2 separate regions of the Homo sapiens genome follow, and region 2 is linked to region 1. The links come from fine-mapping of genetic effects on gene expression. A gene starts in region 1. The other region holds a variant in brackets. All regions are shown on one strand. Distances are from middle to middle.

Evidence for each region. PIP is the estimated chance that this variant, and not a neighbour inherited with it, causes the effect.
Region 2: its variant is the best candidate, but not a certain one, in a credible set for the expression of STK11IP in whole blood (TOPMed, PIP 0.88).

Annotation. Positions count from the first base shown.
Region 1 is chr2:219,590,203-219,606,243 of GRCh38, forward strand. STK11IP (serine/threonine kinase 11 interacting protein) reads left to right here and starts at 7,655. Exons shown (of 25, transcript NM_052902.4): 1 at 7,655-7,721; 2 at 7,892-7,978; 3 at 11,033-11,238; 4 at 11,439-11,513; 5 at 11,786-11,881; 6 at 12,266-12,373; 7 at 12,503-12,574; 8 at 15,406-15,532; 9 at 15,754-15,857; 10 at 15,993-16,041. The coding sequence starts at 7,918. It also overlaps the pseudogene RN7SKP213. RefSeq lists enhancers at 7,607-7,826, 8,037-8,096, 14,860-16,041.
Region 2 is chr2:219,644,281-219,660,321 of GRCh38, forward strand. No RefSeq gene overlaps it. Among named protein-coding and RNA genes, the nearest start is that of SLC4A3, 25 kb to the left of the region's middle. RefSeq lists enhancers at 769-1,539, 1,540-2,309. The variant A/G (reference allele first, on the strand shown) is at 4,997.

The DNA.
Region 1 (16,041 bases):
ATGCTTGGCTAATTTTTGTAGTTTTCATAGAGACGGGGTTTCCCCATGTTAACCAGGCCGGTCTCAAACTCCTGGGCTCAAGTGATCCACCTGCCTTGGCCTCCCAAAGTGCTGAGATTACAGATCTGAGCCACTGCACCTGGCCTGACCATAAAGTAGGGACATTATCCTGGATTATCCAGGTGGGCCCAGTGTAATCACAAGGGTCCTTAAATGTTGAGAGGGGCAAGAGAGTTAGTGTCAGAGTGATGTGATGTGAGAAAGACTCAGGCAGCCATTGCTGGCTTTGGAGATGGAAGGGGGTCACAGGCAAGGGAAGACGGCAGCCTCTTGAAGCTGGAAAAGACAAGAATACAGATTCTCTGGCCAGGCATGGTGGCTCACACCTGTAATCTCAGCACTTTGAAAGCCTGAGACAGGAGGATCACTTCAGGCCAGGAGTTCAACACCAGCATAGGCAGCATAGCAAGAAGCCATCTCTACAAAAGATCAAAGGATAAAAAATTAGCTGGGCATGGTGGTGCACACCTGTGGTCCTAGCTACTTGGGAGCTTGTTTGGAGGTTCTAGCAGGGGTGCACAGTACTCGTATACCCTTGACCAAAGACCAGTCCTCCTCTATCGGGGACGGTCATCTTCTTCAACTGAGCGCACAGCTTCAGGAGGGACGCCTATGGAGAGGTGAGGGAGGAAGGAGACACCCGCCTAGCCAGCCAGATTAGCCGAATCAACCTTGGTGATCAATGGGGTGACAGAAGTTGCAGTCATATTACCCTTACATCCAGTCCTAGCTGCTTGGGAGGCTGAGGCAGGAGGATCTGTTGAGACTGGGAGATTGGGGCTGCAGTGGGCCATGATCACACTACTGCACTCCAGCCTAGCCAACAAAGCGAGACCCTGTCTTAAAAAAAAAAAAAAAAAAAAAGAATACAGGCTCTCCCCTGGCGAGAAAGAAGGAACACAGCCCTGCTGACACCTTAATTTTAACCCAGTGTGACCCATTTTGGACTTCTGACCTTCAGAAATGTAAAGATAATAAATTTTGTCATTTTAAGCAACCAAATTTGGGGTAACCTGTTGCAGCAGCAGAAGGAAGCTGATACAATGTAACATGACTGGTGGTGTCTGCTCTTCCACCACTTGGCTAGCTTCTTGAGAACAAGAACACCTTTGTCTCCTGTATTTACCTAGAATCCTTTTTTTTTTTTGAGACAGAGTTTCGCTCTTGTCACCCAGGCTGCAGTGTAATGGCGTGATCTCAGCTCACTGCAACCTCCACCTCCTGGGATGAAGTGATTCTCCTGCCTCAGCCTCCTGAGTAGCTGGGATTACAGGCGTGCACCACCATGTCTGGCTAATTTTGTATTTTTAGTAGAGATGGGCTTTCATCATGTTGGCCAGGCGGGGCTCGAACTCCTGACCTCAGGTGATCTGCCCTTCTCGGCCTCCCAACAAGTGCTGGGATTACAGGCATGAGCCACCACACCTGGCCTATTCACCCAGAATCTAACACAGGATCTGGCACACAGTCAGGGCTCAGTAAATACCTGTTGAATGAACAAAAGACCGAAATACAGCTCCAGCTTTGTGGTTCTCCAGAGGTTTTGAGCGTCCAAAGCAGCCTCTACGCTTACCCTAGTCCTGGAGACCCTAAGCCATGTGATCTCAGTTTTCTCGTTTCCTTTCCCCCATTGGCCCATGCTTAACACTGCAAGGCTGGCTGCTATTCTTTTGTTTGTTTGTTTGTTTTGAGACAGAGTCTCCCTCTGTCACCAGGCTGGAGTGCAGTGGCATGATCTCAGCTCACTGCAACATCCGCCTCCCGGGTTCAAGTGATTCTCCCGCTTCAGCCTCCCAAGTAGCTGGGACTACAGGCGTGCACCACCATGCCCAGCTAATTTTTGTATTTTTAGTAGAGATGGGGTTTCACCATGTTGGCCAGGATGGTCTCAATCTCTTGACCTCGTGATCTGCCCGCCTTGGCCTCCCAAAGTGTTGGGATTATAGGCGTGAGCCACCGCGCTCGGCTGACTGCTATTCTATGTGCAGTTTCCTCCCTTGCTGTGGATCATTCCCCTCCTCTCTCTGGCCATGTGTGTAGGGAGCACTGAGATGGAAGACACTTGTCACATACTATAGGTGATTTTGCCAACCAGCCTTCTGCGGGTTATGCCTGAAACAGCAGGTTGTGTTTTCCTTCCTGTCTCGGATTCTGTCCGCTTTCCTCTCTTCTCCATAGCCACCTCTATCCATATTTTCTATCAGGTTTCTGTCCTTTGAAGACCAATTCTTTTCTTTTTTTTTTTTTTTTTTTTTTTTTTTTTTACTTATTTACAATATTCTTCGGGTCTTCATCTCTCCATTTCCTGTGTCCTGAATGAAGCGCATAGTTCTGGTCTTTCTTATAGCCCTTCTTAACCCCCTTCTCAAATGGTTCCATGGCTTTCCGGGATAGACAATGAAAATAATTAAAGACACTCTCATATAACGTCGGGTTTACTGCAGAGCTCCTCATGGAAGCACTCAGTTTATTTTATGCAGAATGGTCAACTCCTCTCATAAGGGGAGAGTGGAGCGGCTGCTGGGTCACTGGAATATTGTTATTCTGTTGCTTTCTTTTCAGTCAGTCATTCTCAGGCCCCAGCTTCTCTGATTTCTCGGTGAGCTTAGTTTCTGCCTCCCCAGCTTTCCCTCTGTGTGCCTCAAATTAAATCTCTTCCGGAACCAGGCTCTGATGAGCGTGCCTGGTCATGGTCTAACTCGGAGTTCTCATGCCAGACCTCCTCCAGTGTGGCTGATGTGTCCTGTATGTTTTTGACTTTGGTAACTGAGTTAATTCCTGGGCCAGTCTTTTGTGGCCAAGTCTAGTAGCAGAGCCAAGGTTACTTATAGAAAGAACTACCTCCGGCCACTCATCCTGGGGCTGTGGCTACTAGGCATACGGATTCCTCTCTGGTACAAACTCTTTTTACCAAAACTATATTTGGAGGTAATCATACCTTTTCATTCTCTTCCATCCTTCCCCCTTTCCTACTACACAAAGATAGCAAGTTTTTTCACCTTGTTGCCCAGGCTGGAGTGCAGTGGTGTGATCACAACTCACTGCAACCTTGAACTCCTGGGCTCAAGCAATCCTCTCGCCTCAGCCTCCTGAATAGCTGGGACTACATACACCCACCACCATGCCCAGCTAAAGATAGCAAGATGATGAAACAAATAGATCATCCAATTTCACCCCCCTTCACCCCCAACCCAAGTGTAACATTTTCATTTTGGTGGAATCCGTAGGTCTCAGTTATCTGATCTTCTGTTGGGGGCTGCAGCATCAGAACAGGGAGGTCTAGACCCAGGACAATGGCTTGTATCCTAAAGGTGAAATATGACTTCTGTTCCCCTGTAGGCAAGGATCCTGGGTCTCGCATGGTTCAAGGTATCAGAAATAAGCAGGATCTGAGATCTATATTATGCGGCTGGCAGTCATTCTTCATTCTTGTATGAAGATACTCTCTTCTCCCTTCTTTTTTCCTTTTCTTTCTTTTTTTTTTGAGATGGAGTCTCAGTCTGTCTCCCAGGCTGGAGTGCAGTAGTGTGATCTCAGCTCACCGCAACCTCCGCCTCCTGGGTTCAAGCGATTCTCCTGCCTCAGCCTCCTGAATAGCTGGGACTACAGATGCACACTACCACGCCTGGCTAATTTTTGTAGAGACAGGATTTTGCCATGTTGGCCAGGCTGGTCTTGAGCTCCTGACCTCAAGTGATCCACCTGCCTTGGCCTCTCAAAGTGCTGGGATTAGAGTCATGAGCCATCACGCCCGGCCTTCTCCCTTCTTTTCATCCCCGAAACCTAAGCTAGTAACCAGCACACCTTTCCTTACCCTCTTTTATCATCAGCACTTTGCACAGCCTACTCCAGGAAACTCGGGGTGGTAGGGAAGCTACCAGCAGCAGCTCTCTCTCCACACAATAACATGGGCGTGGAGCCCCAGGCAGATGAGTAGTGCCTCCCTAGTACCAGAGTGCTAGGAATTCTTTGTCATGTGCAGCTGGTGTTGGTGCTTAGAAGAACCAACTGGACATTTCTGATTTTAGGTGGAGTACCAGTCCTGGAGACTAAAACTTAGAAGAGTGTTTGCAAGTTAACAGAGTGATATCATAGCATGTCTTCGAGAAACACAGACTCATTGATGATAGTATGAAATTATGTAATAGCAGCCCATACATGTTATGCTACTTTACAGCAACATGAATTTTTGAAATGGCATTGCATACTTTTTTTTTTTTTGAGATGGTGTCTTGCTCTGTCACCCAGGCTGGAGTGCAGTGGTGCGATCTCGGCTCACTGCAAGCTCCGCCTCCTGGGTTCACGCCATTCTCCTGTCTCAGCCTCCCGAGTAGCTGGGACTACAGGCACCCACCACCACGCCCGGCTAAATTTTTGTATTTTTAGTAGAGACGGGGTTTCACCGTGTTAGCCAGGATTGTCTTGATCTCCTTACCTCGTGATCTGCCCGCCTCGGCCTTCCAAAGTGCTGGGATTACAGGCGTGAGCCACCGTGCCAGGCTGCACACCATTTTAATAAAGAGAATTTTTTTTTTTTTTTTTTTTTTGAGAAGGAGTTTTGCTTTTGCTGCCCAGGCTGGAGTGCAATGGCGCCATCTCAGCTCACTGCAACCTCTGCCTCCCTGGTTCAAGTGATTCTCCTGCTTCAGCCTCCAGAGTAGCTGGGATTACAGGTGCCTGCGACCACGCCTGGCTAATTTTTGTACTTTTAGTAGAGACAGGGTTTCACCATGTTGGCCAGGCTGATCTCGAACTCCTAACCTCAAGTGATTCACTTGCCTTGGCCTCCCAAAGTGCTGGGATTTTGGGTGTGAGCCACTGTGCCTGGCTGGGTCATTTTTAATGTCCTAAAGTTCTCTTGTTCTCTTCACATAGATCTGGCATATTTCTCAAAATATTATAAGCATGTGTGTATTTGTATTTATATCTATAATTTATTGATTTTTTGGCTGCTATGATGAATGGGAATTTTTTTCCCTTTTAGATTTGCTAATCTAGACTTCATTTTGTAAAGGTTTTGTCTTAGTTGAAGTTCTTATGGTAGCAATTTACAGAAATACATTCAGATTAACTTAGGCCAAAAAAAAAAAAAAAAAAAAGCGGGGGAGAATTCTCTGGAAGGCAGCCAAGGCCTCCCCTACAGGCCAAGGGTAGAAAGGAGAGTGGGCCTCACAAGGGGGAGGGAAACAAGAACTACGGAGTCTCCTGTTGCTTTCCCTTAGTAGATCTATTTTTCTCTCCCTCTGTAGTTCAGCTTTCTTTGCTTCTCCCTTTGTCCACTTCCATGTTTCTGAGAAGCAAAGGGATATAGAGCAAACCTGGCTACAGGGGCTACCCATGTGGGTGGAGCAATTCTCAGAAAATAACTATGGGTTGAAAAGGCACGGCTGAAACAGATTTCAAGACACTGCAATGTCAGTGACTTGAAAAGAATCTGTTTCTTGCCTAAGAGGGGTAGAGTTGGCAGTTACTGTTTGGGAGAATCTGCCCTTCTAAGTTCCAGATGATTAATAAACAGGGACTGACAATCGTCAGGTTATGGGATTAATAATTCAACAAAATATACTGAGCTCTTACTCTGACTTTATATTTGCATACTAGTTAGCTGTTGTAGGGGCTGAAAAGTTGTGATGCCTTTCTTCCTCATCATAAGGGTCAGAGCTCGTATAACAAGATAGGTTAAGAGAAAAATCTAAAATAAACTAAGAAGTTTATTTAATCAAAGTTTTACATGACATGGGAGCCTTCAGAAATGGCTACCCAAAGAGCCAGGGAAAACTTGTTTTTAATGCTTAGATTCTATGAAAAATGGACAGCCTGCAGTAATGTGGTTGGGCAAAAAGTGTGCCACTTAATAGTAACAGACAGCAGGTGGAAACCCAACGAGGTCTTTCTGTGTAGCATTCCTTCCTCCCAGGTATGAGGCAGGATCTCTTCCAGAATGAGGGTCTTACGGCCTATCAGACAAGGTAGGCCAGAGAAGTTCTTTACGGCCAGCTTGTTTTTTGGACTGAGTTTCCCTCCTGTTGCCCAGGCTGGAGTGCAATGGCGTGATCTCGGCTCACAGCAACCTCTGTCTCCCGGGTTCAAGCGATTCTCCTGCCTCAGCCTCCCGAATAGCTGGGATTACAGGCATGCACTACCATGCCCGGCTAATTTTGTATTTTTAGAAGACACAGGGTTTCTCCATGTTGGTTGGGCTGGTCTCGAACTCCCGACCTCTGGTGATCTGCTGGCCTCGGCCTCCCAAAGTGCTGGGATTACAGGCGTGAGCCACCGCGCCAGGCCACGGCCAGCTCTTACATAGAAAGGTGGGGGGAAGTTTAGGTTTTATGGCTGGCTTTGGGGGAGAGGGCTTCTAGTTTCTGTGACTCATCTTGGGGAAGAGGAATTCTGGTTTCTATGGCTTGCCTTGGGGAAGAAAGAAGGCTGGGAGACAGGAGGGCAGGAAAAGGTCGGAGAGACTGTGCCTGAGGCCTTCCAGTCTCTTTTAGTTCAAAATAGTCAGCATACCAAAGCGCCGTATTTTGGGGTATTGTTTTTCTGAGCTCAACACTGCTGCTTCGGATGTATCTCCACTTACTTTATTTAACCTAAAAGGCTTTCAGCTCAGAGCACAAGTAGTATGCCATGAATGCGAAATTGTGTGGTTCAAATATTCAAAATATTTGAAATATTTGCCATTTCAAATATTTTGTCTTGAGAAAATAAAATCTTTCAAATCTGGCAACTTGGGATAAAGATGACTATGATCCTATCCCTCCTTTCAACTGGCTTAGGATTCATTTTGATTTTCCTCTGTAGAAATGGGGCGCTTCATGAAAGAAACTCTCTCTGAAAACCAGGAATTCTGTTAAAAGACCTTTTTGCTAATCTAGTTCAGTAGTTGACGTTAGCATTTGACGGGGAGCCTGGTGAAAGCTACCATGAGAATTCGGAAGCAAGAAACTGGCAGTCCTGGCGCTACTGGTTACTAATTGAACGACCTTCGCAAGTAACCTAGCCTCTGTGAACCTGTTCTCATTTTCAAACGCGGTTGAATAACTACTTTTCAACTAGGATGTTATGAAAGGTAATAGGGTAAAGACAAAGGACTAGGTTCGCGTGGAGCCCAGTACTGCTGAAGGAAAGATACACGAGTTTGGAGGGAGTCTAAGGAAAAGGAGGCAAAGGACCCCGGAGGTTATATCCTCGGTGGCCTCAGCTTTTACACGATCTAAGTCCATCCTACGGCGGATACGCTCTCCTTTCACTGGAAAATGACTGTTTGCGTTGAAAAAATTTTTATCTAACAAAGCTCCATTTCTCTAAACTTTGCTTCCCCGCCCAGTTTGCAAACGAGTCAGGGTTTCCTCACCGGCGCGGTAGGCTCGCCGAAAGCCAAGCGGGAGCCCCAGGCTGCGCAGGGCGGGGGAATAATGGGTGCCCAGCTCCGGGCCAGGAAGCCCAGGGAACCACTGCAGCCACCACCGCGGTCAGGAGACAGCCCCCGCACCGCCCCTTTTCGATTCGTTTGCATGATCTACGGCGCGGTTTCCGGCGGCAGAGACATGTTTTCCGGTCGTCCCTTGGCTCGATTTTCTTCCGGGGCGGGACTTCCTTTCCATCATTGATAGGCGCCGGGCAGCTGAGCTGGTAGGAGGACCAGACGGGGAGGTTCGGTATGTCTGACCAGGACTTATGTTCCTCGAAAGGGCGGCCAGGAGGATGCTCTTCCTCTCTTTTCTTTCTCGCCTTTTTCTCCGCATGACGCCTCGGTTTGCGCGGACGCCCTGGGCTTTTGGCACTACCGCCCACCTGAGGCTCTTCCGCTTCCTCTTTCCCCCCCCAGGCTCCGCCCCCCAGCGTCCCGTGGCCATGACGACCGCTCAGAGGGACTCCCTGTTGTGGAAGCTCGCGGGGTTGCTGCGGGAGTCCGGTGAGTGGACTTCCGGTTGGGCTGGGCCTCGGACCTCGGACGAGGTGGGGGTGGTGCTTTCTGGAGACACGCCCTGAGAGTCATGGAGTTACGACTGGTAGGGTCACCAGGTGTCAGAGTTCAATTTCTTTACTTTTCCCAGGTTTGTTCGCCCTTACAGTGTCCTTTGCCTGTGATAGCCTAAACTCTAGCCGTCCTTTGAGGCCAAAGGGCGGTATCCCTCCCTCCGTGCCTTCTCTGACACTGTCAGAAGGAAGTGATCATTACCTGACTAAAAGCCCCTCAGGACCAGGGACTGATCTCGGTCATAATCATTATTGTGTAGCAAGGTACTAAATACAGTAGATAGAAGCACGAGATTTGGAGTCGGACCCACTTGGGTTGGAATATCAACCCTCTTTCAAACTTGCCATACTGTTTCCTGAGGCTCAGTTTTCCTCACAGATTGGCATAGTGATTGTACTTAACATTTGTGGGGATTCGTTTTAATTCATGTATTTAGTACAATGCCTGCAAGTATAGTAACTGCTTACAGTTGGGAGCTATTGTTATTGTAATGATTTCCCTGATGCTTGGCACTGTGCCTGGGCATAATGGAGCCACAGTAGTTGTTGAATACTTGGTTGGCATTAGTTGTGGTAGAAAAAGCCTTGGCTTTGAGATCAGATAGGAGAAGTAACTTCCTACCAATTATATGATCTCCATCAAGATTTTTCACTTTTTTGAACCTCAATTTTCATATCTGTAAGATGGGGTTAATAGTGCTTCTCTTTGAGAGATTCTGAGAAGGTTTGAATGAGATACCAAAGTCATCTGGTACATACTACAGTTAATGTTAGCTGTCCTCCATCACTCCATGCTCCTATTGACGATATCTGTGGAAGCTCTCTTTATAGCAGTTTTCTTTTCTTTCTTTTCTTTTTTTTGAGACAGAGTCTTGCTGTGTCACCCAGGCTGGAGTGCAGTGGCGCAATCTCAGCTCACTGCAACCTCCACCTCCTGGGACGAAGTGATTCTCCTGCCTCAGCCTCCTGAGTAGCTGGGACTACAGGTGTGCACCACCATGACCGGCTAATTTTTGTATTTTTAGTAGAGACGGGGTTTCACCATGTTGGCCAGGTTGGTCTTGAACTCCTGACCTCAAGTGATTAACCTGCCTTGGCCTCCCAAAGTGCTAGGATTAAAGTCGTGAGCCACAGCACCTGGCCAGTAGCAGTTTCATTTCCTGGCTTGTATTGATAACTTTGCAAATGTCTTATATCCTTCTCTGGGAGGAGACAACTAGGAGGCCCTTTGAACGTGGGAAGAGTCCTTGAACCATGTCTGTATCTATCCTCAGTGTCTAGTACATACAGAATCCTTCATGTCAGGTTGTAGGACTTGTTAATTTATTCAGTGATGAATGGTGGGTGTGTGAATGTGTGACTACAAGGAGGTAGCAGGAGAAGAGCTTTGTGGCAGCAGAATAGTTTTGTATCTTGATTGCGTGGCTGCAGGAATTTATATAAACAGCATATAGCTATATATACATATTGTACCAACATCAGTGTCCTGAATTTTTTTTTTTTTTTGAGATGGAGTCTCGCTCTGTCACCCAGGCTGGAGTGCAGTGGTATGATCTCGGCTCACTGCAACCCCTGCCTCCCTCCCAGGTTGAAGTGATTCTTCTGCCTCAGCCTCCCGAGTAGCTGGGACTACAGGCATGCACCACCATGCCCTACTAATTTTTGTATTTTTAGTAGAGACGGGGTTTCACCATATTGGCCAGGCTGGTCTTTAACTCCGGACCTCGTGATCCACCCGCCTTGGCCTCCCAAAGTGCTGGGATTACAGGCGTGAGCCACCACGCCTGCCCTTTGTGTTTTTTTTTTTGTTTTTGTTTTTTTTTTTTTTTTTTTTTGAGATGGAGTCTACCTCTGTCACCCAGGCTGGAGTGCAATGGCTCAATTTCGGCTCACTGCAACCTCTGCCTCCTGGCTTCCAGCTGTTCTCTGGCCTCAGCCCCTCGAGTAGCTGGGATTACAGGCGCATGTCGCAATGCCCAGCTGAGAATATTTGTATTTTTAGTAGAGACGAGGTTAGAGTCGTAGAATAATTTTTTGTGTTTTTAGTGGAGACGGGGTTTCACCATGTTGGCCAGGTTGGTCCTGAACTCCTGACCTCAAGTGCCTTGCTCCCAAAGTGCTGGGATTACAGGCCTGAGCCACGGCAACCAGCTCAGTGTCCTGACTTTGATATTGTACTATAGCTATATAAAATGTAACCATTAGGGAAAACTGGGTAAAGGATACAGGGGACCTTTCTGTATTATTTCTGCAGCATTCTTTGACTCCATACTTATTATATTTTTTAAGCCAAAAAAGCATTCCTTCATGCCTAGCTTGTAGCTGCACTTTTTTAGGTGCAGTGATGAATACCAGAGTGATCAAAAGATGCCCTCAAGGATGAAAGTCTCATTAGAGAGAGCAGTTTTAACAGACAGCAATAACAATGCCTTAGTGCTATAATGAATAGTTATTCTATGACATACTTTTTAGTATTGTTTGAAAGTTTCTACAGATGTGCTTTGCAATCAGAAAAAGAAAGAAAGATAAAACTTCCAATTAACTTTTGTGTAATAATGAGTGACTGCAATATGAAAATTCAGCAGTATTACTTCTTGAGGCGGCTTCCTGGAGGAGGCTGGTCTCAAGCTGGGCGGTGGAAGGGGGTGTCTCATAACAAGAGAGAACTGTGAACCAAGCTGGCTGTATTTCCAGCACTGTCAGTAGATGAGGCTCTTTTGAGCAGAAGGTGAAAGAAAATTTGGAAGAGTTGGTTGGAGTTGTGTAGCCAAGCAGTCTCATCAGGCTGAATGAAATGTTAGGACTTTTTTTGAAGATGAGGGGAGCCATTGAATGCTTTTGAGCTGAGAAGGAGATAGAAAATTTGATCCTGCAATAGAAGATCTACAATATGGATTGGAGTGGGTATATTTTGGCATCATAGAGCCTTAGAATAAAGAGAAAAATCTTTTCACTGTGTCTTCCCTCCTGTTTGCCCCTTTTTCTGCAGGGGATGTGGTCCTGTCTGGCTGTAGCACCCTGAGCCTGCTGACTCCCACACTGCAACAGCTGAACCACGTATTTGAGCTGCACCTGGGGCCATGGGGCCCTGGCCAGACAGGCTTTGTGGCTCTGCCCTCCCATCCTGCCGACTCCCCTGTTATTCTTCAGCTTCAGTTTCTCTTCGATGTGCTGCAGAAAACACTTTCACTCAAGGTTCTGGGTGTGGGGAAGAGGCAGGATGTGCAAGGAGCCCAAGAGAATGATGGAAGTTGGGGATAGGGTAGGGGTGCAGAAGTCTGCAGTGCCAGGATCCAGAGGGTGTCAGAGGTACCAGTGGTTGTGCTAAGGAAGGAATGTTGAGGGCAGGAAGATCTGCTGTGCCTCAGTAAATTGAGTTTTTTTTTTTTTTTCAGCTGGTCCATGTTGCTGGTCCTGGCCCCACAGGGCCCATCAAGATTTTCCCCTTCAAATCCCTTCGGCACCTGGAGGTATGGGGACACGGGGGGATGTTGGTGCACAGCACCCAACTTGAGGCAGCCCCTTGGGGATGGGAAAGAGAAGAGCCTCTTTGGTGAGGAGGCCAGGCCTGAGTATACCCATTGCTCTGCAGTCATGTGATATCCACTGTCTTTCCATTTACTGCTTCCCTAAATCATAGCTGGGCTTTGTGGTCTTCTCCCTCCTCCCAACTAGGGGATGGGGATGAGGTCTTTGTCTTCTGTGGGGTTCTGCCTTCCTCCCTCCTCTTTCCTTGTCCCAGCTCCGAGGTGTTCCCCTCCACTGTCTGCATGGCCTCCGAGGCATCTACTCCCAGCTGGAGACCCTGATTTGCAGCAGGAGCCTCCAGGCATTAGAGGTAAGGAGAGTGAGGGGTGAGCTCAGACACCTCAACTTGAGAGATGTAGAAGACCAAGCTCTGATGTTCTCCCCTCTCTGCAGCTCTCCCTGCCTCCTGCTTCCCTCTAGACAGTGTCCTCACTCCCTCTCTGTGTTCCCGCAGCACTCTGTAACTGCCTGTATATTTATAGTCGTACCTACCATATTATATTACATATTCTAGTGTCTACCTTCCCACTGTCCCTACAGTGAGTTCTTGGGTCAGGGACCTGGGCTTTAAGCCTGTATCTTCAGATGGAGTTCAGTGTATAAAAAATGAATGAGTGACTGGGTGGTAGAGCTTGGCCTTGGCATAGGGAGGAAGGGGAGGGTGGGGTAATGAAGCACCCATCTGTCTGCTCAGGAGCTCCTCTCAGCCTGCGGCGGCGACTTCTGCTCTGCCCTCCCTTGGCTGGCTCTGCTTTCTGCCAACTTCAGCTACAATGCACTGACCGCCTTAGACAGCTCCCTGGTGAGTGCCTCAGAGGGAAGAGGGTTTCGAGGAAGGGCAAGGCCAGGCCTTTGGGGAGGAGGGCCAGCTGGTTGACCAGATAGTATTGTAGTGAACATCGATTCTCTGCCTCCTCCCCGTCTCTCTCAGCGCCTCTTGTCAGCTCTGCGTTTCTTGAACCTAAGCCACAATCAAGTCCAGGACTGTCAGGGATTCCTGATGGTGAGTATGGGCAGTTTGGCAGCTGGCACACCATGGGTCTTTGATTGCTCTGCTCTCACTCTCTCTCCTTGACCAGCTTTTACTCCCACCTTGCTCTTGCCATGAGGGTGGAGCTGCATTCTGGGAGATAGCACTGCTTAGACACTAGCATCAGACAAACCAGAGTTCATATCTCAACTTCTAATACCTGTGCAACTTTGAGCAAGTTAGTTACCTCTTGGTTTCTTTACCTGTAAAGTAGAAATCACAAGAGTACCTGGTTTTTTTTTTTTTTTTTTTTTTTGAGATGGAGTCTCGCTCTGTCACCCAGGCTGGAGTGCAGTGGCGCAATCTCAGCTCACTGCAACCTCTGCCTCCCAGGTTCAAGCAATTCTCCTGCTTCAGCCTCCCAAGTAGCTGGGATTACAGGCACGTGTCAACACACCTGGCTAATTTTTGTATTTTTAGTAGAGATGGGGTTTCACCATGTTGGTCAGGCTGGTCTTGAACTGCTGACCTCAAGCAATTCACCTGCCTTGGCCTCCCAAAATGCTGGGATTACAGGCATGAGCCACCACGCCCGGCTGAATACCTGCTTTTATAGTATTAAAATGATTGTGAAGAAGTACCCAATGTTGCTTAGTCTAGTGCCTAGCTCAGAAACTGGTAGCTTTTGTGATTATGATGAAGAACCTTTCTTCTGGGTCCTCCCATCCACCTGTCAGAGATAAAGCCGAACTAGTTAAAGTGGTAAGGACAGATTTTTTTTTTCTTTTTTTTTTTGAGGCAGAGTCTTGCTCTGTCACCCAGGCTAGAGTGCAGTGGTGTGATCTTGGCTCACTGCAAACTCAACCTCCTGGGTTCAAGCAGTTCTCCTGCCTCAGTCTCCCGAGTAGCTGGGATTACAGGTGCCCGCCACCATGCCCAGCTAATTTTTGTATTTTTTAGTAGAGATGGGGTTTCACCATCTTAGCCAGGCTGGTCTTGAACTCCTGACCTCATGATCCGCCCACCTCAGCCTCCCAAAATGCTGGGATTACAGGTGTGAGCCACCGTGCCCGACCAAGTAAGGACAGATTTTTTATCAGTGATAAACTATTGCAGCGGGGAAGAGGGTGCAACCTGAACTGAACGCCACTTCAATTTGTGCAGAGGTGGCTGGGCATTTTAAAAGGAGAGTGAGGGAATAGGAAGGGGAACTGTGAGGGCTTGAGCAGAGTAAGGGAAGTGGAAATGTACGAAAAGCAGAAGTGGAGGTTGATTCACATGAAGCCCTTCTGGGTTTGCTAAAAGTTAGGCTCCTACCTTCCCACAGAGACTGGGAGATGGGAGCCCTGTCATCAGGTGTTGGCTAGAACAAATGGGAAATTCTTTTGGCAGCCTTGACTTTTCCCAGGCAGGAGCTTAAGGGGGCTAGAGTCACCATTCTAGGGATGCATCCTTGAGATATTAGAACTTTGCTGTTTTTGTTCAGGTTTTTTACTGTGGGGGTTGGAGGAGTCAACAAAAATAATTTGTGTTGAATTTTGTTGAACTTGTGCTGAACAAGTCTGCAGTTCTTAACAGGCCAAAGTTGAGGCCTAGTCAAAAAGAAGGCCCAGAGGAGCCTGAGTAGGGTTTGATCAAGGTGAGAACCTCCTCTAATTCAGGGAAAGAAGAGACACTCCTCTTTCCCCTGAACAATATAAATCCTTTTCTTCCTTGATCACCTTTTGTTCACTAAAAACCAACTGAGCCATTTATTGGGACTTGGTAGTGGATGAATTTTGCTGGATGGTGAGAGTGACCAGGCATTTAATGGGGGACATTTCTATGGAAACAAAAAGGGAAACAAAGATGAATGGTTGGAGCAGACTATAAATCCATTTTCTGAGTCCAGAGGGCAGCCAGTTGAGATTTCTAGGTGTTGAGCTCTATGTTTCTTTAGATGGTGGAATGAGGATAGCAGTGGCAACCGATGGATTTCTTCGTTTGTAGTTTGAATGTTTGTGGTGATAGCATAGACAGTGTTGCAGTCACGGTTATTTCCCTGAACAGAGCCTGGAAGATACAGAAGTGTCAGTGGACTTTTTTCCTTTTTTTTTTTTTAATGAGACAGAGTTTCGCTCTTGTTGCCCAGGCTGGAGTGCAATGGCACGATCTTGGCTCACCGTAACCTCTGCCTCCCGGGTTCAAGCGATTCTCCTGCCTCAGCCTCCCAAGTAGCTGGGATTACAAGTGTGTGCCACCACGCCCAGCTAATTTTTGTATTTTTAGTAGAGACGGGGTTTCACAATGTTGGCCAGGTGAGTCTCGAACTCCTGGCCTCAAGTGATCCCCCCTCTTTGGCCTCCCAGAGTGCTGGGATTACAGGCATGAGCCACTGCACCTGGCCGGCTGGGCATTTTAAAAGAGGGCGGCGGGGAGTGGGCAGGGGAATGGTAGGGCCTTGAGCAGAGCTGGGGGAGTGGAAATCAGGTTGGTCCACATGAAACCCATCTGAGTTTGCTAACTAACTGGCACTTACCAAAATAAGGCCCTTACCCTTTCACAGAGACTGGGAGACGGGGCCCTATCTTCAGGAGTTGGCTGAAACAAATGGGAAATTCTTTTGGCAGCTTTGACTTTTCCCAGGCAGGAATTTAAGGGGCTTGGAGTTGCCATGCTCAGGGTGTGGCCTTGAACTGTTAGGAACAGTGCTGGTGTTGTTCAAGTCTTTTAACGTGGGAGTAGGGGTGGATGAAATCATTTGTGCTGAGTGTGTGCAGTTTTATATAGGCCAAGGTTGAGGCCTAGTCCAGAAGAGGTCTCAGAGGACCCTGGCTAGAGTTTGGTCAACGAGATAATCTTTTTCTCCCCTGTACCCCTGCCAGGATTTGTGTGAGCTCCACCATCTGGACATCTCCTATAATCGCCTGCATTTGGTGCCAAGAATGGGACCCTCAGGGGCTGCTCTGGGGGTCCTGATACTGCGAGGCAATGAGCTTCGGAGCCTGCATGGTGAGTGGGGGTGTGTGATGGGGCAAGCATGGAGGGGAAGGGGGAGAGTGAGGCTGGGGCTGGCCTGGGGACCATGTGCCTCTAGAGCCTTGAGAGGGCTTATGGGGAGTGCAGGGGTGCTCTGGCCGGTCTTTCTGCTGCAACCTCCCCCAGTGCATGCACCACACTCACTTGCGTGTACTCATCCACATGCTCTTCCTTCCTTCTTGCGTCCACCCCAGGCCTAGAGCAGCTGAGGAATCTGCGGCACCTGGATTTGGCATACAACCTGCTGGAAGGACACCGGGAGCTGTCACCACTGTGGCTGCTGGCTGAGCTCCGCAAGGTGAGATGGGAATGCATCAGGGGCCTGGGAACCACCCTTGCACGTACCCCCCCATGCTGGTTTGGTCAGTGCCTTCTTCACACAGGGAGGGCCAGGGCCCCAGGCCCTCCTCATTCTCCCCTTCCTGCCCCTCAGCTCTACCTGGAGGGGAACCCTCTTTGGTTCCACCCTGAGCACCGAGCAG
Region 2 (16,041 bases), 54 kb after region 1:
CTGCAGCAACCAAAATGGCTGCCAGGGATGGAGACCCAGAGGGATAGGAGAGGAAAGAGAGACCCAGCTTGGCTGTGTGACACAGGGGATGAGCTCCATTGTAGCTACTGGAGAAATCAGAGGCTGTGGGGCCACAGAGGGAATGGAAAACGTCTCTCTTCTTTTCTTGATCTCTGGCCTTCCGAGGAGCAGAGATAGCAGCCCAATCCCTTAGACGCCAGGGTGATGCCGGATTTGGGGACCCTGGACCATTTTAGATTCTGCTGGCTTAGAGAGGCAGTTCTGGGATTCCCGAGGCCACTCCTTGTGCAACAGTCTCAGTTTTGCCAGAAATAACCTGGCGGACAAGATACACGGCAAACCCACAGAAAGGCAACCGGGACTGGCCTGGGGCCTGGCTGGCCAGAGAGCGTGTCATATGGGGACATTCAGAGTTTGTCCTGAAGCCCTTTGTAGCCCCGGTGTTTCCTCTGACTTTCTCTTTACCGGGCCTCTGAGCTTCTCCTCTCGGAGTGCTGGGGCCCTCAACTCAGGCCCTCTTCAAGGTGCAGAGGAGAGTTAGTGGAGGGGAGCCCCAGCCGGCCCTGATGGCCCAGCTCTGGGGGGTAGGACAGGACAGTTACTAAAAAGGGGACAAAGGCCATTGTATTTTCGAACATCCGGCCTCTCTGCCATCTGCTCTGGACTGGAAGCGGCTTTGGGAACGTGCACGTGCACCAGCCCTTCAGTAAGGACATCCGGCCTGTCGCTATTTCCCCCGCCCCTTACTGCTTTCCGAGTGGGGTTATGGCCACATCTTGGGTAGCTGCCCAAAGCTTTCATTATCCCCGGACAAGTGCAGGCCCACTTCAGGCCCTGAGGAGTGCTAGCTCATTCTTTTACTTTGGGCAAAGAGGGCGGCTGTCACTTTCTTGTTCATGCTGAGGATTCGGCTCACTCAAGATATCTGATGCCCTTGTGACAGCGTCTGGCTGTCAGAGCTCATAGACCATCTGCTGGGACTGCCCTAGGCCCCTCCTTTAGGGCACAGAACGTGGCAATAATGTGTCCCATTTGGCAGCCTGTGTGACATTTCTTCTTGTATCTTATCAGGTGACTCAAATAATGATCATGCCTGTTGACACTTGGAGCTCTCAAAGGGAATTCTGAGCAGCAAAGGAAAGGTGACACAGAACTCAAGGGCACTGGCGCTGAGCGCTGCCCATGCAGCTGGCAATTAAGCCATTGCCGAAAACAACAATAAAACAGATTTTGGGCAAGTAGGGAATGGTGGATTGAATCCAGTGTGGCAAAAAAGGAAATGCAAAGTGAGGAATGTAGTTTCCAGATAAATAAATTATATAATTGTGATTCACCACTTGTGCAAAGAGCAGACTCCAGTGTTTGTAGGATTTATGTTCTGGAAGGAAGATTTAATATTTGAGCCTACTGCTGAGATTATTTTTAATTTTGTTGGAACTGTTTCTTTTTACTGAACAATGCTTTATTAAGTGCTGACTAAGCGGACAGCCACTGGGTTGTTCTCTGGATGGTGGATGAGTCACAGTTGGGTTTGGGAGATGAGGGGAGGAGCAGGGAGCTCTTTAATGCCAGCAATTCCAGGGACAAGGCTTAGGACCATGGGAGAGGAGGGACAAAGAGGGGGTGGGGCACAGCTGGAGATGAGGAAGGGGCTGGGAGCAAGGGCTCAGAGCTGGTGGGAAGGTGGGGGTGAGGGGAGCGTGGAGGAGGGTGCAAAACCAGACTTTCATTCGTGAGTCCCTGAGCATCCCCTGCCACGCCTCCTCTCTCACTGCACGCCCATTGCGTGTTCTTGTCTGTCTCCCTATAGGCTGTGAGATGGGCAGAGACCTGGCCTGAGTCACCTTTGTACTCGTAATGCCTCCCACAGTGCCTGGCCACAGGGGTGCATGGAGGGTAAGGGGGTGAGCAGTTGGCAGAGAAAGAAGGACCAAGAGGTCACAGTCTCCACCACATTTAGATCCAGTGAGCAGTGCGTCCTTGTCTGTGACAACTGGTTATCATAAGAGAGACCATAGCGGTCCTTGCGCTCTAGGGCCACCAGGGAGCTCATGCAGCTTTTCTAGGCTTGGGAGAGAGAAGGTGGGTTGGGGGAGCTTAGGAAGGACACACTCTCAGGAAGTGGTGTCTCTTCCAGGGACATCCAGCCTAGACTATAAGGTCCGGAGCAGCTGGTCAGGATATCAGGCTCTTGAGATAGGTGGATTTGTTCTACGAATGTGGCCCACACAGCAAACAATATTTTAAACTTAATTTTTAAAATTATTTTTACTTCAATAGGTTTTGGGGAACAGGTGGTGTTTGGTTACATGGATAACTTCTTGAGAGGTGATTCCTGAGCTTTTGGTGCACCCATCACCCGAGCCGTATACACTGTACCCAATCAGCAAACAACATTTTAAAATAACTAAGTTGTGTCAACAAATATAAAGCAGCAAGTCCTCAAAACTACTGAAAAGAGCCCAGAAGTGGGGAACATTTCTCTGAGATCAGAGGAGTCCTTAGGCAATATTTCCCCAAGTGGGGAAGGATACCAGTAGTGGTGTGTGAGATGATTTTAGGTGTGGTTTTGATAGTTTAGCTGTCACAGTTATATATTTTCATGTGTTTTAGAAAAAAATACAATGAGTACTTGAGCCCCATAATTTTGCAGACAGTATTGTGTAGGATAAGTCTAAATACATATGTTAAAACTAGTGAATTGATTTAAAGGAAAAGTACTAACTTTATAACTGTACAGTTAGTAGGCATATGATATGGTTTGGATCTGTGTTCCTGCCCAAATCTCATGTTGAACTGCAATCCCCAGTGTTGGAGGTGGGGCCTAGTGAGAGGTGATTGGATGATGAGGACAGATTCCCCCTTGGTGCTTTTGTGATAGTGAGTGAGGTTTCATGAGATCTGGTCATTTAAAAGTGTGTCGCACCTCCCCCCTCTCTCTCTTACCCCTGCTCTGGCCATCTAAGACATGTCTGCTTCTCCTTCACCTTCTGCTATGATTGTAAGTTTCCTGAGGTCTCCCCAGAAGCAGAGCCACTGTGTTTCCTGTACAACCTGCAGAACCACGAGCCAATTAAACCTCTTTTCTTTATAAATTACCCAGTTCCAGGAATTTCTTTTTTTTCTTTTCTTTTCTTTCTTTCTTTTTTTTTTTTCAAGACAGAGTCTCACTCTGTCACCCAGGCTGGAGTGCAGTGGTGCCATCTTGGCTCACTGCAACCTCTACCTCCCGGGTTCAAGCAATTCTCATGTCTCAGCCTCCAGAGTAGCTGGGATTACAGGTGTGCGCCACCATGCCGGGCTAATTTTTGTATTTTTAGTAGAGATGGGGTTTTGCCATGTTGGCCAGACTGGTTTCGAACTCCTGACCTCAAGTGATCCACCCACCTTGGCCTCCCAAAGTGCTAGGATTACAGGCGTGAGCCACTGCACCTGGCCCCAGTTTCAGGTATTTCTTTATAGCAGTGCAAGAATGGACTAATACAGCATACACAGCAAGAAATTGTGACAATGCCAGGGAAAGGACTAAAATGTCAGAAATCATTGCTTCAAGTCGGAGGATCTTAGCTCTGGTTAAGCGCTGGAATCACCTGGAGTGTTTCAAAACATATCAGTGTCTGAGCCTCATCTCTACAGGTTCACACTGGCATTAAATTACATTAATTAATTTTTATTTTTTGTAGAAATAGGGTCTCACTATGTTGTCCAGGCTGGTCTTGAACTGAGCTCAACTGATTCTCCAGCCTTGGCCTCCCAAAGTGCAGGGATTACAGGTGTGAGCCACCATGTCAGGCTCACACTGGTATTTTATTAAACATTCCCCTCCCCCGACATCCCCTCAAAACCCCAGAGATTCTAATATGGAGTCAGGTTTAAGAACCATTGTCCTAAACCAATATATTCTTTCCTATGGTTGATTTCCACTACAATTTCCACTGTGGTTGAAAGTTATTTCTTATTATTGCTTCTCCTTGGTATGAAAATGCAAATACACAGTATGCATATTTATTTTAGAAAGTAAGCTTGAGGGCAGGACCCATGCCTATTTCTATTCTGTTTATCAAGCAACAGAAAGGGCTGCACATAAACGCATGGACTTAGGAAGGGGAACAATACACATCAGGGCCTGTTGGGTTGGTGGTGGGTGAGGGGAGGGAGAGCATCAGGACAAATAGCTAATGCATTAGGTGATGGGTTGATAGGTGCAGCAGACTACCATGACACACGTATACCTATATAACAAACCTGCATGTTCTGCACATGTATTCTGAAACTTAAAGTTAAAAAAAAAAAAAAAGAAAGGGCTGAACGTAGCACGTTCTAATGTTTAGGCTGCTTGGTTGGGACTGTGATCTGTGAGCACCTCTCTTGCTCTGCTGGCTTTGCTGTTGTTGATGGCATTACAGTTGAGTGGCCAGAACATGGGGACTGGCAGTCAGGAATCCTCGGCTTTGGCCTCACCTCAGGCACTAGCTGGACTTTGGTTAAGTGGCCTCATCTTTCTGAGAGATTAGGAATTTGGCTCCAGCACCTCCTTCATAGACCATATTCTTTCAACAGACCCTGATCACTGCAGTGGTTTTGCTCAGGAAGCAGGGGGTTCAGGAGGGGGGAAGCAGTGGCTGTAGTGCTATAGGAATCCCCAAATAATCTCTCAGCAGAGTTACTAGGCTTAGGAACTTTCTTCTTTAGTTTCGCCACGTCAAAAGGTGTGTAGATCCTGGGGGAGTCCATTTTTGCATTCCTAGGGGAGTCAGAAACTCAGAGACCACAGAGGGTGGGATGGGTAGGGTGAGGGGGTGGGGGTGAGCAGTGACTTGGAGAATGATCTCAGGATATTGGACAAAGCTGTGACGTCACTAGAATTCAATTAGGTGACGTTTAAACATCTATAAGAGGTGTGTGGTCCTATGAGATAAGAAGCACATGAAAAGGATGCAGGATTCTGTAGAGATAGATGGACAAATATGTAGTT[A/G]TAAGCCTTAATGGTCACATAAATACACAATCAGGTATAGAACCTGGATAGGGAGTTATGGACTACACTCTGGCTTGACCTTTAGTAACTGATCACTTGTAATCAAGGGACTAGTCTACTCAGCCACCTCCATCTTTAAGTTAGAAAGTTAAAAACTGGAAATAGGGCTCTACAGGTCCATAGAGTCAGCAGCTAAGATGCAGTCGGCATCCCACCCAGAATCTCTGGTTGATTAGCAACCTCAGGTGGCTGAGAAGGGAATACCTCTCTTGTGGATAGACATTTTACTAGCCCTGGGAAAATTTATTTTCATCTCGTTTAATTTTTTTAGCCCTGGGAAAATTTAAAATTAAGCACACAAATGTTTAGGGGAATCAAAACTATAGTTTTCATGTTTTCAAGTTAAAGAATTTGTGCATATATAATATTTGTGTAGGCATAATTTTAGAGAATTCGGCCTACTGGAATATTAGACCACCTTCAATATTTCATTTTAATGTATGTACTTGAATAATTGATTGAAATTTGTGATAAGTTGAAATATTTCCAAGTTTACATATAGTTTGGACATTGAAGAGAATTTAAGGTTCACTCTGTCTTGTATGCTGAATTTATTAAATCTGTAAGAATTACTTTTGTACTTGGGAAGTTTTATCAGTCAGATGAAATACTTAAAAAGGAATTGAATTTATTAAATTTATTAAGTGCCATTTAAAATGTTAAAGACTTTTAATTAACTAAGTGTGTAAATGGGGCTAAGCATTAATCAAAACCCTCTCAAAGTGATTGTTAATATTTGCTAGACTTATAAATAGGACAATAAGATTCCTAAGGTGATTTTAAAAGCGTTAAGGAAGAGCTATAAATTTCTAAATCTATAAATTTAATAAATTGAATACTGATTTTCAAAACCCCAGTAAATCTCAGAGTGGTCTTTTCAGTGCGCAAAAGCCACCCTCAAGGACATAAGACATAAAATATTTTCCTAACCAGTGAGTCTTCAGCAGTGCAGGGGGAGAGAACGGAAGTGGGAAAGGGAGAAAGGAAAGTAAGATTTTAGTGTCATTGGATTGTCTTGTTCCCAAGGTCAGGCTAGATGGTATATTCTGCACCATGCCAAATTGCTCATCTCACAGGAGACTGTAATTAAACACACGCTTACTGTGCGGGGGATCAGAATTGCTGAGGAGGGTATTTGGCAACTAAGAAAGCAGGTTAAATCGTGATGGCTTTGGGGTCTTAGCAGTCCCTCTCAGTAAGCCCTTCTAAGTTACATTCTACTGTTCTGTTTGCTGTTAATTATTCCTCAGATAATTTCCCCTGAGCAAGAATAAGGACATTCTGTGGTAGAGGCTGAGGTTTTTGTTTCCCAGGGGGTTTGCTGCTGAGAGCCAGTGGGAATGTGTATCAGTCAAAATTCTTATTTGCACCAAACAGAAGCCAGCTCCAGCTAATTTAAGCAGAAACAGGGCTGTTGAAAAGCCATTCACAGACACTGGGAAGGTAGGAGACTCCAACTCAGAACCATGGTCACAGACATGCCACAGAAAACATCCGGTGGCAATGTGGCTGTTGCTGTGGAACGTGAGATGCCACAGTTGCGCCCCTGGTGGGGGATATCACCCCTGGAACGGCCACCAGGAGGATTCTGCACTGCCCCTCTTCTCTGCATCCATCACTAATACCTGCATCCATCACAAGGTCTCAGGTGGATGTTCCTGACTGGCTTATGTCATGTGCCTGTGTCGAAGTTGCTAGAAGGCTGGGAAAGAGGCTTTTGGCATTTCAGCTTCTGTGGTGGGAGGCAGCTCTGGCTCTGACACTCAGTAGTGATGTGTTGGAGCTAGCTTACAAGAGCTGCTTGTAAAAATTTCAGGGACTTGTGAACTGGTTGTTAAACATAGTCATTATTAAAAAGTAAATTATAGTAGATATACTGTTTCTATTCCTCTTGCAAAGTATAAAAGAAATATAAGTCTCTGAATGGAGGCAAGAAGAAGGCAGACCAGCTAGGGACCTTGGGACCCAAGGAATAATACATTACTGAGTTCCTTGTATTTTCTTTTTGTGTCATATATCCCAGACTTGGAGCTGAAGAAGCTGGCAATGCAGAAATGCCAATAGGTGTAGGCAAAAAAGCCCCAACCAAAGTCTGCTCTCTCTAGTCAAAGGGGTAGGAAAGAAGAAACAGAGCAAGACAGAAAACTTTCAGACAGTAACAGCCAAATGCAGCAGAAAAATCTGTGATCTCCCCATCCCAACTCAGGCTAACAAAGGCTAAATTGGCAGCTTATACTTCCAACCTTGAGAAACTGTCAAGGCACCTCAGTACTCACGATGAAGTGATGTCATAGGAGACCAAGTAGAGCCTGGACTTCCAGCCCCATCTAGCAGTAATAAGGCACTCTTCCTCCTTCCCACTGTGTTGGGAGCAAGCCCCCCAAAATCTGGCCATAAACTGGTCCCAAAACTGGCCATAAATAAAATCTCTGCAGCACTGTAGCATGTCCATAATGGCCCTAACGCCCAAGCTGGAAGGTTCTGGGTTTACGTGAATGAGGGCAAGGAATACCTGGCCCGCCTAGGGCGGAAAACCGCTTAAAGGCATTCCTAAGCCACAAACAAAAGCATGAGCCATCTGTGTCTTAAGGTGTGTTCCTGCTGAAATTAATTCGGCCCATCCCTTCATTTCCCATAAGGGATACTTTTAGTTAATTTAATATCTATAGAAACCATGCTAATGACTGGTTTACTGTTAAGAAATATGTGGGTAAATCTCTGTTCGGGGCTCTCAGCTCTGAAGGCTGTGAGACCCCTGATTTCCCACTTCACACCTCTATATTTCTGTGTGTGTTTCTTTAATTCCTCTAGCGCCGCTAGGTTAGGGTCTCCCTGACCCAGCTGGTCTCGGCACCACTGGATGGTGTCAGAGGATGCCTAGTGGGGAGTCAGAACCTTTGTAATCATTCAGCAGTAAGAGACAGAGAGGGATACTATGTAATGATAAAATAGTCAATTCACCAAGAAGACATAGCAATCCTAAATGTACATGTACCAAACAACAGAGCTGCAAAATAGGAGAAGCAAAACCCAATTGAACTGAAAAGAGAAACAGACAAATCACAGTTGTAACTGGAGACTTCAACACCCCTCTCTCAACAATTGCTAGAACAATTGATAGCTAAAGTCAGCAAGGATATAGAAGAACTCAACATCAACTGAGAGGATTTAATTGACATTTATAGAACACTAAGACTAAACCATCAGAATACAAATTCTTTTTGCATGTTCATGGAACATATACCAAGATAGACCCTATTCTGGGCTATAAAACACATTGCAACAAACTTAAGAGAATTAAAATAATATAGAGTTTTCTGACCACAATGGAATTAAACTAGAATAACAGAAAAATAATAGGAAAATCTCCAAACACTTGGAAACTAAACCAACATATTTTAAGTAATTAATGAGTCAAAAGGGAAGACTCAAGGAAAATTTAAAAAATTATTGAACTAAATGAAAACTAAAATATAGCACATCAAAATTTGTGGGACACAGCCAAAGCAATGCTGAGAGGGAAATATATAGCATTAAATGTGTACATTAGAAAAGAGGAGAAGTTTCAAACTAATAATCTAAGCTCCCACCTGAAGAACCTAGAAAAGATAAGCAAACTAAACCCAAAGTGAACGGAAGGAAGGAAATAATAAAGATAAGAGTAGATATAAGCAAAATTGAAAACAGAAAAACAATAGAGAAAATCAATGAAACAAAGAATTTGTTCTTTGAAAAGGTCAATAAAATTGACAAATCTCTAGCAAGACTGACAAAAAGGAGGACACATATTACCAACATCAAGAATGAAACAGGCCGGGTGCAGTGGCTCACGCCTGTAATCCCAGCACTTTGGGAGGCCGAGGCAGGTGGATCACCTGAGGTCAGGAGTTTGAGACCAGCCTGGCCAACGTGGTGAAACCCCATCTCTACTAACAATACAAAAATTAGCTGGGCGTGGTAGTGCATGCCTGTAATCCCAGCTACTCGGGAGGCTGAGGCACGAGAATTCCTTGAACTTGGGACACAGAGGTTTCAGTGACAGAGTGAGACTCCGTCTCAAAAAAAAAAAAAAAAAAGAAATGGGATATCACTGAAGACCTTGCAGCAGACATCAAAGACTGATAAGTGAATACTATGAATAAGTTTGCACACATAAATTTAGCGACCTAGATGAAATAGACCATTTCTCAAAAAACCACAAATGACCACAACTCACTCTATATAAAAGAGCTAATTTGAAGCTGGGCACCATGGCTTGTGCCTGTAATCCCTGCTGCTCAGGAGGCTGAGATGGGAGGATCACTGCAGTCTAGGAAGTCTAGGAGTTTAAGGCTGCAGTGAGCTGTGATCAAGCCACTGCACTCTAGTCTGAGTGACAGAGTGAGACCCTGTCTCTTAAAAAAAAGAGACAATAGCCCTGTAATGAATAGCCTCTAATGAATAGCCCTGTAATGATTAACAAAGCTAATTTCTTAAATTAAAACTCCTCCTCACCTACCCCACCTCCAAATTTCCAGGCCAAGATGGTTTGACTGAAGAATGTTACTAAATATTTAAATAAGAATTGCTACCAATTTTACACAACCTCTTCCAGAAATAGAAGAGGAGGTAATACTTCCTAATGAACTTTATGAAGCTAGTATTCCTCTGATATCAAGACCAGACAAAAATAATCCCCAAAAAAGAAATCTAAAGACTAGCATCTCTCCTGAATATAGATGCAAGAAATCTTTAACAAAATATTAGCAAATATAATTCATCAATATAGAAAAAAATTATATATCATGATCATGTGGAATTTATTAGAGATGAAAAGCTGTTTCAGTATTTAAAAATCAATTATGGTAATCCACCATGTTAACAAGTTAAAAAAATCACATGATCCTATCAATTGACACAGAAAATGCATCTGACAAAATTCAACATCCATTTATGTTAATAACTCTTAGGAAAATAGAAGTGGAGGGGGGCTTCCTCAACTTGACAAAGGGTGTCTACACAAAATCTACAGCTAATATTGTACTTAATGGTGAGAGAGTGAATGCACTTCCCCTAAGATTGGGAACAAGGTAAGGATATCCTCTCTTACCACTCTTATTCAATCCAGTGCTGGAAGTTCTAGCTAGTGCAACACGCAAGAAAAAGAAACAAAAGACATACAGGTCAGAAAAAAAATTGTCCCTGTTTGCAGATAACATAACTGTCTACATAGAAAATCCTAAGACATCTATAAAAATGAAAACAAAACAAAAAAACTTTTGGAACAAGTGATTTAGTTCAACAAGAATCATAGGATACAAGATAAATATACAAAAATCCATTGCATTTCTATATATTAGCAGTAAACACATGTATACCAAAATTAACAGTACAATACCATATGCAGCCCACTCAAAAGTGAAATACTTTTTTATAAATCTAATAAAAATTTACAGAATCTACATGCTGAAAACTTCTGTATTAGTCTATTTTGTGTTGCTATAAAGAAATACCTGAAACTGGATAATTTATAAAGAAAAGAGGTTTGTTTGGCTCATGATGCTGCAGGCTGTGCAACAAGCATGTGCCAGCATCTGCTTCTGGTGAAGCCCTCAGGAACCTTACAATCATAGTGGAAGGGAAGGGAGGAGCAGGCGTGTCATAAGGTGATAGAGAAAGCAAGGGGGTGGGGAGGTGCCACACTGTTTAAAAACCAGATCTTGTGGTAACTAATAAAGTGAGAACTCACTCATTACCATGAGGATGGCACCAACCCATTCTTGAGGTATCCACCCCCAGGACCCAAACACCTCCCACTAATCCCCACCTCTAACGTTGAGGTGACATGAGATTTGAAGAGGACAAATATCCAAACTATATTAACTACTCAAGGTTGATGAAAGAAATCAATGAAGATCTAAATAAATGGAGAGACATACTACGTTCCTGGATTGGAAGATTCAGCATTGTAAAGTTGTCAATTTGTCCTAAACTAATATATATAGGTTTAATGCAATTTTTATTGAAATCTAAGCAAAGCTTTTTTGTAGATATAGACAAAATTATTTTAGAATTTATATGGAAAGGCATAGAAACCAGAATAGCTAAAATAATTTTGTAAAAGGAGAATAAAGTGGGATGAATCAGTTTACCTGATTTTAAGACTTATTATATAGTTACAGTAATCAAGACTGTGTGGTATTGGTGGAGGGATAGTTGCAAAGACTGATAGAACAGAATTTAAAAACCTAGAAATAGACCAACATAAATATACCCAACCAATTTTTGACAAAAGGTGCAAAAGTAATTCATTGAAGAAAAAATACCCTTTTCAACAAATGGTGATGGAGCAAAAGGACATCCATTGGCAAACACAAACAAACAAAACTCTGATATAAATCTCATACCTTATGCAATAATTAACTCAAAATAGATCATAGAATTAAATGTAAAACTTGAAACTATAAACATTTTTAGAAGAAAACAGGAGAACATCTTTGGGTTTAGGGTTAGGCAAAGAGTTCTTTGACTTGACAACAAAAGCATAAAAGGAAAGAAAAAATTGATTAAATAGACTTCACTAAAATTTTAAAATTTTATGCTGCAAAAGACCTTGTTAAGAGGATGAAAAAACAAAGTACAGAGTGGGAGAAAATATTTGCAAACCACATATCTAATAAAGGACTAGTGTCTTGACTATATAAAGAATTCCTCAGGGCCAGGCATGGTGGCTCATGCCTGTAATCCCAGCACTTTGGGAGGCTGAGGCGGGTGGATCACGTGGTCAGGAGATCGAGATCATCCTGACTCACACAGTGAAACCCCATCTCTACTAAAAATACAAAAATTAGCCAGGTGTGGTGGCATGTGCCTGTAATCCTAGCTACTCGGGAGGCTGAGGCAGGAGAATCGTTTGAATCCGGGAGGCAGAGGTTGCAGTGAGCCAAGATCATGCCACTGCACTCCAGCCTGGGTAACAGAGCAAGAGTCTGTCTCAAAAAAAAAAAAAAAAAAAAAAAAAAAAAAAAAAAAAAAAAAAAATTCCTCAATCTCAACATCAAAAAACCAAACCATCCACTTAAAAAATGGGCAAAAGACATGAAGAAAAATTTTACTGAAGAGAATATGCAGATGGCAAATAAGCACATGAGAAGGTGTTCAATCTTATTAGCTATTAGGGAAATGCAAATTAAAACCATAATGAGGTATCACCATACACCTATCAGGATGTGAGAGAGAGAAAGAGAGAGAGACAGAGAGAGACAGAGAAACATGAAAAATAGTGATATCATCAAATGCTGGCCAGGATGTGGAGAAACTGGATTACTCATACATTACCAGTGGAAAGGTAAAATGGGACAACCACTCTGGAAAACAGTTTGGCAGTTTCTTAAAAACCTAAACATACAACTACCATATGACTCAGCAATTGCACTCTTGGGCATTTATCACAAAGAAAGGAAGACTTATATTCACACAATAAACTAAACAAATGTTTATAGCAGTTTTATTTGCAATAGCCAAAAACTGAGACAATGCAGATGTCCTTTAATGGGTGAATGGTGAATGGTGCAGTGATAAAGAATAAGCTTTTGACGCACACAACACAGTAAACTGTGTATCTCCAGAGAATAGCACTGAGTTGAAAAAGCCATTCTCAAAAGGCTACACAATGTATGATTCCATTTATACAATATTCTTACAGTGACAGTGTTGCAGAAATAGAGAACGGGTTAGTGGTTTCCAGAGGTTAGGGAGGGGACAGCTACAAAAAGGCAACTTGGGGGACCATTATTGTGATTGAAATGTTCTCTAATTTTGCCCCGTCCATGTCAATATTTTGGTTGTGACACTAATCTTAAAATAAAATGTATAATTAAAAAATAAATACATTATATTCAAACACAGGTAAATACATTATATTAAAAATAAAGGTACTAAACACTCAAAATTCATGACTTCCCAATTATTTTGTTACTTTTACTATTGTCTATATTCTGGAAGTTATTTATGTCTGTTATATCTGTATGGTGGAAATATTCTATAGTGATGTGCTATGGCACATTTCTTCCCAATTCTGCATTCAGTGATGTCACACTAATAGTTTGAAATTGGCCATTGTGGGAGTATTTACACCAGAGAAATCAGCAGACACTACAAATTAGGTCCTCCCCTCCTTTTTTTCGTAGATGGTTGTTAAACTTTTACCGGGACTGCTTTTAAGTTAGGGAATTTCTCATGCATAGGAAGTGGGTTTAGATGCTGGATGACTCCACCTCCCAAATAGCAAATGTCAATCAAAAAATGGATAATGTCTCAGATCAGTTATAGAGGAGGAAGAAGCTGGCTCTTCCTAAGGCTATTTCCTCTCTACCTCATTGCTTCCCTCATTTTATAAAAGGCTGTTGTGGACTGTGGTTGAAGCAGATGCTGGAGGAATGGAATCCTGGCTGTTTATAATCTCATTTCTTTAATATCCAGCATAGAGATGGCAGGATGGTAAAACTACAAAAAAATGGAGTTTTATGAATGCTCAGATCTCTTTTACACTTTTCCCTAGGCACTGCTGTTTCTAATCTTTCTCCATCAAAGTCAAATCCTTTTGTTAGCATTTTGATCTAGGGACCATGTAGCTAGTTATCAGCTTTGCTCTTCTGCAAGCTTTTCCATTCCTTGTGTGTCTAATTGGCCATAAATGAGATGGAAGCGGGAAGAGATGGGCCTGTGGATCTGATGAACCATCCTAGTCTATATTACAGCTATGGTGAAAGGTCCAAAGGCCAGGTCTGTATAGACAAGGGGCCACATGGTCATTGGTTTTAAGGAGTTCTCTTCACCCACTAGAGTTACGAAACTGGCACTGGCAGCATCCGTGGTCCTTGCCTCACAGAGAGGGGGGACCTCTCTGTAGCCACAGTGTGGCCAACACAGAACCGGGCAGAGATAAGAGACAGACAGACAGACAGAATCTTTTTTGGGCTGAGTCCCTGGGAACCTTTAAGTTCCTGGTCCCTGCAGCTTGTCCTCCCTAGCTAAATTCCATTTTCGGTTTAGGCAAATTCTAGTTGAGTTGTTTGGCACAAGCAGCTGAAAAAATTCCAGATAAACACATTCCCTACAGAGCACCCCTCATCCATATAGCCTCTCTTTCCTCCTCTGGCTCCACTCTGGAAACTATAAATGTGATCTAAAACTTCCAGTCGCAACCTAAAACCATGGGACACCTTTCCACCTAGAGATTTGGTTAACTTTGAAAGATAGGCTTCAGAGGTCCCCTGAGAAGCTGCCTTTCTCCTCTGTGCTGCATCCAGCCACAGAGTTGAGTCAGAGGCAGGGAAACAGCATGATTCTGCTGTTTTACAGCCTGAAAGAAACATCTGGACGGGAATGCACTTTTTTCTTTTTCAGAATACAAGAAACCTCCAAAAATCAAGCCGAATGTTTTTGAGAAACATTTTGTGGTGGTAAACGGATTGGGTGCAAAGACACCTCCGTCTTTGATTCCCATAGTCCCTGATTTATTTTGGCATGGGAGTGTCTGTAGTGCTACCATTCAGCCACATGTTAATTTTTTGTCTACGCAAGGTTGTAAACTGCATATGGTTTATTTCAATTAGCTTAATTGTTTTTGGTATTTAATAGCTAATTGTCTTAATTAGCTTCCAAAGCACAACAATGCTAAGAACGGTAATGACTACATCTTATCCATATGGTTACAGAAGACAGATGACTCAATTTCCCATCCTCAGGCTGTGTGAGTCTCAGGAGGACAGGGCAGATGTGCAAGGAAGAAGATGGATGTCCTCAAGAGAGCTGGCCCGGCCTTGAATGCAAAAACCTGAATATTAAGAATAAATGAGGAGGTGATGGACAGGGAAATAAAGCAGGAGAATGAAGGATTTATGGAGGACTCAAGTCATCTATTTCCTTAATGTAGATACCATGCAGTGATGCTGGGTGAATAATAATAAGAATAACAACAAATTTCACAGTGCCAGCAGGCTATATTGGCTCTGATCTGAAGAGGCAATGTTTGAAGACCAAATTGTGGGACATTGAGAGTGAGAAATGCCCTGTGGTGCAATCAGTCTTAGGAATAGCTGGTACCAGTCAAAGCCTGGGTGACATTTCTCTGGCAAATCTGGATCAGAAGTAGTTCATACCTAGTGCCTGGCATATATTAGGAGCTTAATATATGCTTTAATCAGCATCTGCCAGGAAATCCTGGGGGCTCAACCTTCAAAATCTATCTCTAACCTGACACTTAGCATCTCCTTTACTGCTGCATCCTGGTCTGATCCACCACTGTCTTTCACCTGGCTGCCTCTCCCAGCCTCCCAACTGGTCTCTTTCCATCTACCCTCAGCCCCTCTGTGTTTACTCTCAAAGCATAGCTAAAGGAATCCTTTAAAAGCAGAAATCATATCATATCCCTGCTCTTCTCAGAACCCTCCAATGGCTCCCATCTCACTTGGGATAAAAGCCAGAGTCCTTGCAATGACCAATAAAGTCCTTCTCCATCCTGTTGTGCCTTTCTGAGTTCATCTCCCACCATTCCCCAGCCCCCTCCGCTGTGCCACACTTAATTCCTTCACCTGTTCATGCTTTAGGGCTGTACTGCTTGAGTCATTTCCACTAGCCACATGCAGCTACTTAACATCAACTAAAATTAAAAGTTGAGGCTGGGCGTGGTGGCTCACCTCTGTAATCCCAGGTGAAGGAAAGAGATTTAATTGACTCACAGTTCCGTGTGGCTGGGGAGGCCTCAGGAAACTTACAATCATGGTGGAAGGTGAAGGAGAAGCAAGCACCTTCTTTACATGGCGTCAGGAAAAAGAGAGTGAGGGGGCACCTGCTAAACACTTTTAAACCATCAGATCTCGTGAGAACTCACTCAATCACTATCACGAGAACAGCGTGGGGGAAACCACCCCCATGATCCGATCACCTCCCACCAGGTCCCTCTCTTGACACATGGGGATTACAATTCTAGATGAGATTTAGGT